4 linked regions of the Homo sapiens genome follow. The protein of the gene in region 1 purifies or fractionates together with the protein of each later gene. This does not show direct contact. Each region holds a gene or a part of one and is shown in the gene's direction. Other genes may lie near its edges.

Region 1 (4,210 bases):
CACCTCCTTAGGGTATGAAGCTAGATTCCCTGATCTGAATGGATTCCATGGAGACAGTCACCTAGACAGACACCTGGTTTCAGGTGATCCCTTTCTGGACAAGGTCTTTTGTTTTCAGCGCCCCCCCACCCTCCGCCCCAACAATGGCATCTCCTCCTCAGCCCAGCCAGCAGCCCCAGGCTAGCATCTGGGAAGAGTCCAGGGAAGCCCAATGAGGGAGAGTGGGCTGTGTCTGGGATGGCCAGGGATCCCCTCCAAATGGGCACCTGCGGCAGGTCGTGAGTCCAGCCATCTCTAGGGCAGCCCACACCTTCAGCAAGGAGGGGCAGGAGACCTAGAATGGGGGAAATGGGAGGACTAAGATTCTAACGTTGGAGGTAGGGCAGGCTGGTGTTACCTGCACAAGGCCAGAAGCCTCTTCAGGCCGCCTCTCCAGGGACCGTGCCAGCTGTCCCCACTTCGATCAGCCACAGTATTGGACTTGGTCCAGCACGAACAGAAAGCGAAGTGTGAGCCCAAGACAGAGGGGGGAGCCGGACACCCTTATGGAACTAACAGCCTCTGGGGAGGCCTGTTCCAGATCCCGAGTCGGGCGCACAGGGGGATCCCCGCAAGGGGGCAGAGGGAAACCCGGGAGGCCCGCGAGAAGAGGCGAGGCCAGAGGCTGGGCGCGGGCAGCCAAGCGCACTCGCGGCGCCCCGACTCCAGGTAGCACGTAGAGAGGAGGCTGAAGAGCCCCTCGGTTTTCCGAAAGTTTCCAGCGAATCCTTCTTGGTGAAGATCGGCCTCTGGGAGGCAGCGTGTGTGCTTCCCGAGAGGGGGCCCCCTGCGCCGTCCCTCTTCCCCTGGCACAGAAGGGTTGAAGGACTGCACACAGGGATCCCTCCCCAGCCCAGTCTCCTCCCAGCGCGCCCCCTCCCCGCCATGCCGGCCAGCGCCGGGCTGTGTCCCAGGCACTGCCCCCCGCCAACCCTGGCCCGACCAGCCTCGCCGCTGCAGGCTGCCGGGAGCTGCGCTAGCTCATGCTCCCAGCTCGCTCGGTGCTCCCTGTTCGCTCCGGCCCGGCCCCGGCCCCCATCGCGCCGACCATGGAATAGGCGGGCGGCCCCGCGAGGCGCTCCTGCAGCCGGCGAGGCCAGAGCCAGTCCGGGGTGGCTTTGCCAACCGGCGGAGTTGGCCAGCGGCGGGCCCTCCTACCGTCGGTCCTTCCCCGCTCCTCCTCCTCTGCCCCCTCCGCCCCCGCCTCCCGGCCGCCCCCGCCGCCCCCGCCGCGCCGCCGCCCCAGGCCGAGCGCGGGCGCGGAGCGTGGGAGCCATGGCGCGCGAGGAGGAGCGGGACCCCGAGCGCCGGGAGGCGGCGGCGCGGGCGAGCGGCGAGGAGGAGGAGGAGGGAGGGGAGGAGGGACTGGGCGATAGCGACGAGGAGGGCGACGACGAGGAGACGGGCAGCGGCGAGGAGGAGGAAGAGGAGGCGGAGGCGGCGGCCGGGTGGGAGCGCAGCGAGGACGCGCGGCTGCTGCGCGCAGGGCTGCCTCCTGCCGCTGTCCCCGCCGCGGCCGCCCGCGACAGGAGCGGCCGCCGCCCGCCGAGGCCGCCGCCCGGCCGCCCGAGGATGCGGCCGTCCGGCGACGAGGACCGCGCGCGTCGCCGCCGCCGCCGCCGCCGCCGGAGGGACCTTCTGCTGAGCCAGCTCTGCTTCCTGGCCTCGGTGGCGCTGCTGCTCTGGTCGCTGTCGAGCCTGCGAGAGCAGAAGGGTGAGTGCACGCTGCCTGCCCCGAGTGGGCGCTGCGGCTCCGGCGGCTCGGGGCTCCCGGGGCTGGGCGCGGGGCTCCTTCGGGCGGCCCGGCCGGAGCCCCAGGATAAGCGGGCTGGGTTGGCGGGGGGAGTGGGATGCCAGGCACGAGGACTCCCCCTGCCCCACGCAGAGGCATGGAGGTGGGGACCCTGAGCGCCAGCAGCCAGCAGGCTTAGGCGTCTGGCCGCCCTGGGAACATTTACCTGTGCCCGCCTGTGCGCTGCTTACTCGCGAGCTGGAGGTACTGCTGGTGGCGGTGGTGGGGAGTCTTACTCTCCATCAGCCCCCAAGGCCAGGGATAAAGTTGTGGTGGTAGACCCGGCACCTGTGCAGGTGACCACCTGTATACTCCTTGGCTTGCTGAAGGATTCAAGGGGACTGCTTAACACACAGTTGTCCGTATGTTCTCCATCCAGAGAGCAGGCGGGATGGCCCGAGTAGAGAGCTCTTCAACCCCCTTTCAGAACAGGTGCCGGGAACTTCAGGGAGAGAAAAAGTGTTGGCCCTCCAGCTATGGGCTAGTAGGGGACTTGTTCTCCTAAAATGACCACTCACTGGGAAGACAGGGAATTCTTCCTCAGAGGTCCCTTTTGCAGAGCTGCTGCTGTGGAAGAAATGGTTTGCAGTGGACCACGCATCACACTGTCCGCTCCTCTACCGGTGCTCTGCGCAAAGTCTGCCCTTTAACCCACAACTTTTGTCTTGTCTTTGTCCTTGGCCTTTCTTGAGCTGAAATAGATCTTGTGTGCTCCCAACAGTTGTCTGCTGAAACAGCTTCGATCCTGGGATTCAGCTGTCTATAAAATGAAGGAAAAACATGGGAGAATAACTGTTGTAAAATGGTTTTATATCCCGGCCGTGGAAGTGGCACGATTAGTGGGAAAACAGCCATGTAAAGGGTTGTGAGAAAGAAACAAAACAAAACAAAACAAACAAACAAAAAAACAGTTACAAGTATGTGCTGTGGTGTTGAGGTCGACGTAGCTCTAATGCAAGATGTCATGAGGTGCAGAATAAAGACATTTTGATAGTCACCGTAAAATATTTTCAAAGGTGCCATGAATTTAAAAAGGGATCTCCCCCAGCTTGGCTGGTCTCCTGCTTGGTGGGGAAGTGAAACAGGCGTCAGTCTTCATTCAGTCTTAGCAGACCGCTTGACAGACTTCATCATTTATGGTAATAGCAGAGAGTCCGTCTTGGTCTTCAGTGAAGCTGTTCAAGACTCCACGGCTCTCTCCATTGCTCTCCTGGATCTCAGATCCCGTAGCCTTGGGTTCTGACATCAGGAAGGGGGCCGTGCCGGTGTGAGGGAAGCAGAATCTCTCCCAGGGCAGATTCACATCTGCCAGACTTCTGTCTACTGACAGTCTCACTAAGGGGGTTTTCCCGAATCCCATTTTTATTTTCCTTTTTTATTTTTCTCCAGTGAAAAACCAGTTTATAGTTCATGCCACCTTTGGAAAGGGCTATTCCTAGTGGATTACACGCTGGCCATTTTTTTCTGGTATGTTGGGGCTCTATGAGACATAGAGTTCCCACCACTTTCAAGAATATAAAAGACATTTTTTTCTGGGTGAAGGATGTGACTCATATAGTTAAGTCAATCAGTGACAGGGGGCTGCCTGGGCCCTGAAAAGCTGGGATTTGGGAGGAGAGGAGGCCAGACACTCTGCAAACTTGAAACCTGGGGACTGGAATGTCATTTTGGAATGGTTTCCCTGGTAGTGACATTTCTATTCAGGTGCCACTGACTCAGATTTAGTTCCATAGCACGGCCTTTTCCGCATCCCTCCCTCTGTCCTACCTTTCTCCTTCCTACCTTTCATATTCTTTTTTCCTCTCACTTCCTCTTCCTCCCTTCTCATCTCTGTTGGTCTTAGGACCCCTCCACACCCCAGTAACTGAAGATCTAACAGGCAAAAGCCAAATGTTAAGGAGGATGCCAGCCAGCCTCCCTGTGTTGCCCCCGAATGACATATGAGTTGAAATGGTCTCCAATCACTTTTTTTTCCGTTAGGTATTGATGATTTTGGTATGTGATGCACAGTAGTATTTTGCAGCAAGACACAGGTTTTTCTAGATAATTTTTAACATATTAATTAATGTGTGTGAATCTGCAAATGATAATTTTGCAAGGGGAATTGTCGTTTGGCACACGTAAGCATTTGAATGGTGACTTTTACCCTGGAAACTTGGAGCACACACTACCTAGTGGTCCTTTGGTACAGATACTGAAGTTTGGAATGGAGCATTGTTTCGAAGACCTTGTGGTGTAGAGAGGCTGAGTGATTAGCTTAAAGTCACACAGCATTCGAAGAGTAGAGGAAAAAACCAACCTGAGGTAACCTGGTTTTTTGTTCCCTACTCTGTCCTCATATTCAAACCACCATTTGGGTGTAGCTTTGTAATATTTATA
Region 2 (3,500 bases), on another chromosome or scaffold:
TGAATGCTGAAGAATAAACCATCTTTTATGTAGACCACTTAGCCATTCAGCAAGCACTTATGGAGAGCCTGCTACGTACCAGGCTTTGTGCTGGATGCCAAGGATACAAAGATTACAAGACAAACATGGTTTTTGTCCTCATAGAGCTTATAATCTAATGTCAAAAAATATTTAAATCACACATTACAAAACTGTATGGTAAGCACTTTGATGAGGGAAGTACAATGTAAAACAGGATTATATAAAAAGCAATTTATCTGCATTTGGGAGGGCAGAGAGGGCCTTCCAGGGGGAGTAAATAGCATAACTGGGAGAGGGCTAGAGAGAAGTTCCTTTCAGAGGACATCTACACAGGTCTCGATGTGAAAGAATATGGATCTAAAGAACCAAAGAAGTTCCAGGGGGCTGAACACATGAGTTTGCTAGGCAGCAGGGGCATGATAAGAAGCTAAAGTAGTCTGTGCTAAACTACTGAGTTTACACTTGCTCAGTAAAGTAGTCCCTAGAAAGACATAAAATCATTTTATTCATAAAGGTCCTAGCCAGTTTAAGAAGAAAAGAGTAGTTGTGTCAGTGTGTATGTATAGAAAGTTCTGTTTACTACAGACCAGCTTTATCAGCTGTCATGTGGCTACGGTCTCTGCCAGTTTGAAACAAAACTGACGAAAGAGGGATCCTGCAATCTCTCGGCTTTACATTGAGATGAAAACCACTTTTATGTAGATTAGGCAGGATGGTGGAGAAGCTAAGAAAACTCTCTGAAGGAAACAGATATAAAAAATATTAGGCTTTCTACTACTCCTCTAATTTTGGTCTCAACTCCTCTCCCCTGAAGTTTTTATTTTTTAAATTAATTTATTTTTATTTATTTTTTGAGACAGGGTCTCACTCTGTTGCCCAGGCTGGAGCGCAGTGGTGCAATCATGGCTCACTGCAGCCTCAACTTCCTAGGCTCAGGTGATCTTCCCACCTCAGCCTCCCAGGTGGCTGGGACTACAGGCACACCCCACCACCCCCAGCTAATTTTTATGTGTGTGTGTTTTTTGTAGAGACGGGTTTTCACCATGTTGGCCAGGCTGGTATTATTTTTAAATACTTGCAATCAGGGATCATCCATAAGAAGCAAGTCTCACTCTGACACCTTTTCTTTTTTTTCGAGACCTAGTCTCACTCTATCACCCAGGCTGGAATGCAGTGGCACGATATTGGCTCTCTGCAACCTCTGCCTCCCAGATTCAAGCGATTCTCATGCCTCAGCCTTTGGAGTAGCTGGGAATACAGGTGCCCACACCCAGCTAATTTTTGTATTTTCAGTAGAGACGGAGCTTTGCCATGTTGGCCAGACTGGTCTTGAACTCCTGGCTTCAGGTGATCTGCCCACCTTGTCCTCCCAAAGTGCTGGGATTACAAGTGTGAGGCACCGTGCCTGGCCACTGACTCCTTTTCTATTTGCAAACTTCTCTGGCTCATATAATGATTATCATAAGATTATGGCAAAATATGTACTTCCATTTTTGTCTTAAAGCATACTCTGTAACATGGATAACTTCAAAACTCCAAGGGCATTTAAAAATTTATTTCCAATGTCATGAGCTTTAATAATAGGTCTTATAAGAGTGGATCTTATCTTTAATCCCTGAAATAAGTTAACCGTCTAGTTAGCAGACCTTTTATCATAAAAGAGTTTCTATAAAACATTTCTCAAAAGAAAATATGTATTGACATTCTATTTTCTTTCTCCTCCAGATACTATTTTTTGGATTTGGGTGGCTTTTCTTCATGCGCCAATTGTTTAAAGACTATGAGGTGAGAAGAAATCATTTTGTCATACTTACACTATATGATTTAGATTGACAAGAAAAATGTCTCCATTAAAGAAACATTATGTTCATTTCCAAGATAGGAAGCTTTTACCAAATAAGTACTATATAACTATTAGATTGCAGAATATAAGTAGACTTAATTGATTTAAAAGGGGGGAAAAAAGGCAAATCAAATATAGCCCAGAAGTTAGGAGCAAGGATTATGTCTTAGTCATATCAGGATATGTACCAATAGCAAATAGTTATTCTGTAGGAGAGAATTTAATTCATAATGTCTCACAAATGTTCCCTTTCATTTGTCTATCTGGCCCTGAATTGCAAACCTTATATTATAAGTTAATACCAAAATCCCAAGGCTATCAGGGGAACCAGTCCCCAATATTTCAACATAGGTTCTTTCTGTTTTCCTTAAGTGTCGGCCGGTCTGAGAAATAAAGAGAAAGAGTACAAAGAGAGAAATTTTACAGCTGGGCCTCCAGGAGTGCCATCACATATTGGTAGGACCGTGATGGTGACTCCGAGCCACAAAACCAGCAAGTTTTTATTAGGGATTTCAAAAGGGGAGGGAGTGTACGAATAGGGAGTGGGTCACAGAGATCACATGCTGCAAAGGGCAGTAAAATCACAAAGCAGAGGCAAAAATTAGAATTACTGATGAGGGTCTGTGTCCCACTGTGCACACATTGTCTTTATAAACATTTTAACAGGAAATAGGGTTCAAGAGCAGACAACCAGTCTGACTAGAATTTACCAGGCTGGAATTTCCCAATCCTAGTAAGTCTGAGGGCACTGTAGGAGACCAGGGTGTATTTTAGTCCTATCTCAACCGCATAAGACAGACACTCCCAGAGCGGCCATTCATAGACCTCTCTCCCAGAATGCATTCCTTCCCCAGGGTTATTCCTTGCTGGAAAAAGAATTCAGCAGTATTTCTCCTACTCGCTTTCTGCAAGAAGAAGAGTATGACTCTATTCTGCCCAACCCCGCAAGCAGTCAGACCTTATGGTTATCTTTCCGTGTTCCCTGAAAATTGCTGTTATTCTGTTCTTTTTCAGGGTGCACTAATTTCATATTGTTCAAACACACATGTTTTTCAAACAATTTGTACAGTTAACGCAATCATCACAGGGTACTGAGGTGACATACATCCTCAGTTTACAAAGATGACGGGATTAAGAGATTAAAGTAAGACAGTCATAAGAAATTTAAAAAGTATTAATTTGGGGAACTAATAAATGTCCATGAAATCTTCACAATTTATGTTCAGAGATTGCAGTAAAGACAGGTGTAAGAAATTATAAAAGTATTAATTTTGGGAACTAATAAATGTCCATGAAACAATTTATGTTCTTCTGCTGCGGCTTCAGCCAGTCCCTCCATTCGGGGTCCCTGACTTCCCGCAACACAAGGCTGGTGTTGTTTTTATCTTAAGCTTTGGATTCAGAAGATCACCACCCTAGACTCGACATTTCCTAGTTAGTTCTCCTAATTAGTAATAAGATCAGTGGTTATAGTCTACATTTGGGTCATTTCTAGGATATTCTCCATTAAACTTTCCCAGGGAGTTTATTGTCTGAAAGAGCCTGGGATTCTGGAGATTTTCTTCTGCCCAATACTTTAAGACCTCCCGAGGAAGGTTCCAGAACTGATCCAGGATCTGCAGAGTGTTGAAGAACC
Region 3 (3,393 bases), on another chromosome or scaffold:
CCTAAATGTAGTATTTTTAGAACCCTTTCCTAGACTCTCCTCCTTCCCCCTAAGCAAGACTAGGACATCATTCTCTTCCTTCTCCATCCCTCATGGCTCTGGATTTATTGTCAACTCCCTGAGTGCCTGTGTAACTGCAAAAAGTTCAAAAACCTGACTGCTCCTACCTCAGGGGCATGGCTTAGCCTCTGATCATCAGGTCTGAATCATGAAAACTCCTGGAGCTACAGGTTCATTTCTGAACCTGGAGGGGAACAGGGAATTTGCTGGCGCTGTCTGACATTTCTCAAGCACAGTGGCAAGTAGAAGTTGAACTTGTGTACTTTTTCTTGGCTGATCCTTACCTGCTTCAATGAGTTGGCACTTGTTGGGTCTTAACTTGTCTGTGGCATTGTGTTACAAGACCAGAGCACAAAGCACAAAGTTGTTAGGTAATTTTCACCAGTAATTCACTGAGATGATTGGTAGATGCCAAGTTTATTTTAACTCATGAATAATCTGTTGTGTGACTTTTTTTTTTAAGCGTCTTGCTCTCTTGCCCAGGATGGGATACAGTGGCATGATCATAGCTCACTGCAGCCGTGACCTCCTGGGCTCAAGTGATCCTCCCCCCTCAGCCTCCCAAATAGCTGGGAGTACAGGCACGCACCACCACACCTGACTAATTTATTTATTTATATTTATTTTGTAGAGACAGGGTCTCCTATGTTGCCCAGGCTGCTCCCAAACTCCTGGGCTCAAGCAATCCTCCCACCTCAGCCTCCCAAAGTGTTGGGATTACAGGAATGAGCCACTGTGCCTGGCCTGTATGACTTTCTAAATCACTTCTGAGACTTAGTTGGAGACAATACAGCAGAGTTGTTGTGTATGAGGGGTCCAATGTCAGAAGTACCTACATTCAAATGCTGATTTCCCCAGTTAATACTTAACCTGCCTCAATTACTTCAGTAAAATGGGGGATAATAGCAACACCTACCCGATGGGCTGTTGTGACAGTTAAATGAGCGCGGTGGTGCATGGCAAGACCTAGCTGAATGTTAGCTTTTTATTAATAGTATTTCTTTAAAGGTTGTTCATTATACCCTTGCTCACTGTCCTCGTCCATTTTCTGCTTCCTATAACAGAATGCCACTGCCTGCGTAGTTTATAATGAACAGAAATTCATTAGGGTCACAGTTCCAGAGGCTGGGAAGTCTAAGGGCATGGCGCTGGCATCTGGCAAGGGTCATCCTATGGCAGAAGGCAGAACCCAGCACATGAGACAGAGACAGGAAATCAGGCCAAAGTCATCCTTTTTATCAGGAGCTGCATTCCTGGGATAACTAATCCACTCCCAAGATAACGGCATTAATCCATTCATGAGGGCTGAACCCTCATAACCTAATCACCTCTTAAAGGTCCCACCTTTTAATACCATCATCATGGCAATTAAATTTCTTTCTTTTTTTTTTTTTTTTGGTGGAGAAGGGGTCAAACTATTTTACTGAGGGGAATGGGGTGTCAAAGAAGTACTTAGGACCATGAGATCCAACATCCTTGGCTGGACTGGGAGCTCCCAGGCTCTGCAGGAGGTGCAAGAACAGTTAAATTTCAACATGAGTTTTGCTCTTCAAACCATAGCACCTCCATTGGGGGTGGGGAGGTGAGGTCACTCTGTATCAGTGGTTCTCAACTTCATGCAGTGGAACTGCCTAGGGAGCTTTTGCAGATCCAAGGCTAGGCCACACCCAGACAATGATATCAGAACCTCTGGGCTGGGGACACAGACATCAGTACTTGGGAAGCTTCCAGGTGATTCCAGTGAGCAGCCATGGTTGAGACCCACAGTATAACTTGACTCCTAATGAAGATGGGTGGAAGCAGAAGCTTGGGTTCAAATCCTGGCCTTTCTGTGTAGCCCAGTGACCATGGGAAAATGCTTAACTTCTGAGTCACAGTTTCTTCTCGTCTGTACCAGTAGGGGCGAGGAGGATAAAAGCCACCTCACATGATGGTCCTGCAGAGAAGATGACATATGTGCAGTTATTCTTGTTTGAGCACATAACTGAGCACTTTTCTTTATACCATTATATGGCAGTAATCCTACTTGTGTGCTATTTTTAAGTTGTTTTTTATACCAGCTGTATCTTAAGTAGATTATAAGCTCCTTGGGACAGAGCCTTTATAGAGTCTTATAATACTTTTATGCCTATAGCACCTAAGATACAGGGACAGGCCTTCAGATTTTTAGAACTGGCACAAACCTTAGAGAGATCTTCTCGCCAACTCTAAAGTGTTGAATAATACTTGCTGGTTAATTAATATGCAAGTGGTAAAGAATGTGAAAGAGGAACCTGTGAGTCAGATGGTTGTGCCCAGCTTCAGTTGGAAGTCCCAGTCCTTCCTCTCCCAGCTAACAGCACTTTCTTTCCAGGGTTAGTTTGGTGCTTGCTTGGGGTAGGGGTGGAGAAGGATGTTGGGATAATCAGAGCTGAGAGGGTGAGTGTGTCTACCATGGCACTCAGCTCACTGTGCTTCTCTCCTGGCAGACCCAGTCATGGCAGCCTCCAGCATCAGTTCACCATGGGGAAAGCATGTGTTCAAAGCCATTCTGATGGTCCTAGTGGCCCTTATCCTCCTCCACTCAGCATTGGCCCAGTCCCGTCGAGACTTTGCACCACCAGGCCAACAGAAGAGAGAAGCCCCAGTTGATGTCTTGACCCAGATAGGTCGATCTGTGCGAGGGACACTGGATGCCTGGATTGGGCCAGAGACCATGCACCTGGTGTCAGAGGTAAGGAAGGTAGTCCCTGTGTGACTACACACATTAAGGAAAAATAAAAGAAGAAAGGTTGGTAATGGCCACCTCATCTTAGTTCCACATCCTCTCTGGTGCAGAGAGCCCCAAATTCCACAAAAAGAAGCCACACAGCACTTGTCTTTGAATTCCTCGTTATTTGATTGCTGTCCTAGGGCCTTTTAGCTCCACCCCTATCCTTTCCTGGCTCCTGCCCTTTCCTTGCCAGAAAGGCTGGGAAATGAGCCATCTTTATAAGCCCATGTTACTGGGTGACTGTAGAGTCTCACTTTGGTCTAAATCTGACCTAGAATCTCGAAATGGCAAAATATCAAGTCCTGAATCCATTCCTTCACCTGCAGAAGTGGGTTGAGCTTATTGGGAGCCTAAGGCAGGGTTATCTTTTTTTACCTGGTGGCATCCCAAGCATGGTATCACATACTTTTGATAGGCTGGACTGAAGGGCTGAGACAATCATTTATTAAATCCATAATATAGTATAGCTGATAGACTCCTTTTTCACTGGAACATCCTATCCCTTTACAGATGTTCTCCACGCACCTTCATGACTCCCTGGACAGCTAGCAGGCCTCCAGTTTTATAGGGTGACTACTAAA
Region 4 (3,500 bases), on another chromosome or scaffold:
CGTGCCCCATGGTGTGCCAGGTAAACAGGGATCTCCTAGCTGCCCCCGCTCCACTGCTCTCCTTCTGTCCACAAGGTGGAGGCCGCTCTTCCCCTGGGCCTTTCCAGAGGAAATTCCCCAGCTGGGCTCTTTCCAGCCCCACCGCCCTGGTCCCTGGTCCCAGCTGCCACCTGTCTCACGGGAAGGTCTGCAGTTGCTGCATGTGGCAGGGTTCCTAAGACCATCTACAGGCTCACCGGTTCCCTAGGAGCACTGGCAGGACTCAGCATATAGTTGTCCTCACAGCCGTGATTTATTGTGACGGAAGGACGCAAACACCATCAGCAAAGGGAAAAGGTGCGCGAATTCCCGGGCAGGCCAGGCCCAAGCTTCAGAGTTCTCTCCCTGTGGAGTCATACGGGACACACTTAATTCCCCCAGCAGAGGGTGCCCACCAAGGACTCCCTGCCCAGGCTTTTTACTGGGGGCTGGTCATGTAGTCACCCTCTGCTTGACACGTGTCAAAATTCTAGACTCCCAGAGGGAACGCAGGTGTTGTCATAAACCACATCATTTGTGTCAACAGCCTAGGCCTGGCATCTCCAGGCTGCACTCTGGCCCCAGCTCTGCACCTGGCACAAAGAGGCCCTTTTTGTTTGTTTTTGTTTAGGATCTCACTCTGTTGCCCAGGCTGGAGTGCAGTGGCTCAATCACAGCTCACTACAGCCTCAACTTCCTGGGCTCGTGATCCTCCCACCTCAGCCTCCCGAGTAGCTGGGACCACAGGCCCATGCCACCACACCTGGCTAATTTTTGAATTTTCTGTAGAGACAGGGTCTTACCATGTTGCCCAGGCTGGTCTCAAACTCTTGGGCTCAAACCATTCTACTGTTTCAGCCTCCCAAAGTGCTGAGATTGTAGGCGTGAGCCACCACACCCAGCCCACCCTTGGTTAATAAGAGCAGGAGGGCTGTGGGTCCCACTGCTTAGCCAGTCATGTGGGCTGAAATGTGCTCCTCAAGAATATGTGTTCCAGTCCTAATCCTGGACCTGTGAGTGAGCCCTTGTTTGGGAGTGGGGTCTGCAGATGTGATAAAGTTAAATGAGATCGTCTTGGATTAGGGTGGACCCTCAGTGTAATGATTGCTGTCCTTATAAGAAGTGGGGAATTTGGACACAGAAACACCAAGAAACATAGGGAGAAGACGGCCATGCGAAATGAGAAACAGGGACTGGAGGGACGGAGCCACAAGCCAAGGAACACTGGGACCACCAGAAGCTGGAAGAGGCGAGGAAGGATCCTCCCTTGAACTTTCAGAGGGAGTGTGGCCCCACCAAGACCTTGATTTCAGACTTCCAGCCTCCAGAACCGCAAGTGGATGAATTTCTGTTGTAAACCACCCAGTTGGTAGTGGTTTGTTGCGGCAGTCACGGGAAACCATTATACCATAGCCCTGTTACATGCGGAATCTCTCAGCAGCGCCCATTGGTGCTTGACACCCAGAGATGGGGGAGTGGGGTCCACTGGCCATGATGGGCACACTGGTTCATACCTGTTGACACCCCAGGCCATTCAGAAATGTCTCCAGCCTTAATTCATTGAGTTCAACCTTTAAGAGGCCTTAGGCCAACTCAGTCACCTCACTGCTCAGACAAAGAATCAGAGGCGTCAGCATAGCCAGAGGACACTGTGCACCTGGCAGCCCCCTGGGGCCACTCATGGCCCCTCCAGGGACTTGGCAGAGTTAACGCACCCTCCCCCAGATGCAGCCACCGCGTGCAATCCTCTTAGCTTCCGTATCCACCACCTGCCCGGATTGTCAAACTCTCTGTGTTTTCGTCGCCACCCATTGAACCCTGGAGAAACAAACCTGATTGCAGAAAATCGCACGCAGCTTGGAATGAAAAACTACAGAGTAGGAACAGCCTCCTAATCATATGGAAGAAGCCCAGAATAGAGGCATCGGCAGCGGATCCACGAGCCCTGAATGCCTGCATTCATCAGGGGAGCAGCTGGCGCGTTCTGGAGGCGAAACGAGCTTGCTTCCGTGTCGAAGCTTTTCTAGTTCTGTTTGATGCGTAAGCTTCAAGGCATCCGAAGCCCTTTGGAATTCGTGTCTTATGCGTAGAAGTTTGAGTGCAAAATGCTTTACAGGAAGCCATACACCAACGTTGGATATTCTGGTAAAAAAGGTTTCTGTGAGCACAATTCTATAATTTCTTTCTTCAGTGTTTTTTTTTTTTTTGAGTCTGGTTAAAATGGGAACTCTGTAGCCCCGAATGGTCTAATAGCAAAAAAATGTGAGCCCCCTAGGTGATGTGAAGTTTTCTAGTAACCATGTCAAAAGAGTAAAAAGAAATGGTGAAATTAGTTTTTCTTCCTTTTTTGGGGGGGAGGGGGTGGGGAGTGGGGGGTAGGAGGGACGAAGTCTCACTCTATTGCCCAAGCTGAAGTGCAATGGCGCTATCTCGGCTCACTGCAACCTCTGCCTCCTGGGTTCAAGTGATTCTCCTGCCCCAGCCTGCCAAGTAGCTGGGATTACAGGCATGCACCACCACACCCGGCTAATTTTTCTGTATTTTTAGTAGAGACAGGGTTTCACTATGTTGGCCAGGCTGGTCTTGAGCTCCTGACCTCGTGATCCGCCCGCCTCAGCCTCCCAAAGTGCTGGGATTACGGGCATGAGCCACTGCGCCCAGCCTTTTTTTTTTTTTTTTTTTTTTTTTTTGAGACAGAGTCTTGCTCTGTTGCCCAGGCTGGAGTGCAGTGGTGCAATCCCAGCTCACTGCAACCTCCACCAACCCAGGCTCAGGTGATCCTCCCACCTCAGCTTCCCAACTAGCTGGGACCACAAGTGTGCACCACCACATCTGGCTAACGTTTGTATTATTATTATTATTTTTTTTTTTCTGAGACCGAGTATTGCTCTGTCGCCCAGGCTAGAATGCAGTGGCCGATCTCATCTCACCACTGCAACCTCCACCTCCCGGGTTCAAGCAATTCTCGTGCCTCAGTCTCCCGAGTAGCTGGGATTACAGGCACCTGCCACCATGCCTGGCTAATTTTTGTATTTTTTTTTAGTAGAGATGGGGTTTCACCATCTTGGCCAGGGTATTCTCGAACTCCTGACCTCATGATCCACCTGCCTCGGCCTCCCAAAGTGCTAGGATTACAGGCGTGAGCCACCGTGCCCCCCTAATGTTTTTTTTTTATAGAGATGGGGTTTTGCCATGTTGCCCAGGGTGGTCTCGAACTCCTGAGCTCCAGTGATCTGCCTGCCTTGGCCTCCCAGAGTGCTGGGATTACAGGCATGTGCCACCATGCCCAGGTGAAATTAATTTTAATAAGATATTTTAGTTAACCCAATATATTAAAAACAACTTATAATTAATAGAAAATTATCAGGTGTCTCACAGTTTTTTGGGTAACTAAGGCCTTTGAGACAGTCTCTATTTGACACTTAGAGCGCACATCAGTTCTGACTTGTCACATTTCAAGGGCTCAGCACACGATAGATGGC

Evidence for each region. The genes of interacting proteins can lie anywhere in the genome.
Region 2: the proteins of SLC24A3 (region 1) and GPR89A purify together in Homo sapiens (affinity purification with mass spectrometry, with the first as the bait; one large-scale study listed by BioGRID). This does not show direct contact.
Region 3: the proteins of SLC24A3 (region 1) and TMEM109 purify together in Homo sapiens (affinity purification with mass spectrometry; one large-scale study listed by BioGRID and IntAct). This does not show direct contact.
Region 4: the proteins of SLC24A3 (region 1) and BRI3BP purify together in Homo sapiens (affinity purification with mass spectrometry; one large-scale study listed by BioGRID and IntAct). This does not show direct contact.

What each region holds. Positions count from the first base shown.
Region 1 is NC_000020.11:19,211,232-19,215,441, forward strand, and holds the start of SLC24A3 (sodium/potassium/calcium exchanger 3 precursor), read left to right. Parts: upstream 1-1,410; 5' UTR 1,411-1,611; coding exon 1,612-1,753; intron 1,754-4,210. UniProt on the Homo sapiens protein: Calcium, potassium:sodium antiporter that transports 1 Ca(2+) and 1 K(+) in exchange for 4 Na(+).
Region 2 is NC_000001.11:145,614,488-145,617,987, forward strand, and holds part of GPR89A (Golgi pH regulator A), read left to right. Parts: intron 1-1,746; coding exon 1,747-1,806; intron 1,807-3,500. UniProt on the Homo sapiens protein: Voltage-gated channel that enables the transfer of anions such as iodide, chloride, bromide and fluoride which may function in counter-ion conductance and participates in Golgi acidification.
Region 3 is NC_000011.10:60,917,158-60,920,550, forward strand, and holds part of TMEM109 (voltage-gated monoatomic cation channel TMEM109 precursor), read left to right. Parts: intron 1-458; exon of another isoform or gene 459-1,996; intron 1,997-2,528; 5' UTR 2,529-2,536; coding exon 2,537-2,773; intron 2,774-3,393. UniProt on the Homo sapiens protein: Functions as a voltage-gated monoatomic cation channel permeable to both potassium and calcium. Plays a role in the cellular response to DNA damage.
Region 4 is NC_000012.12:125,014,145-125,017,644, forward strand, and holds part of BRI3BP (BRI3-binding protein precursor), read left to right. Parts: intron 1-3,500. UniProt on the Homo sapiens protein: Involved in tumorigenesis and may function by stabilizing p53/TP53.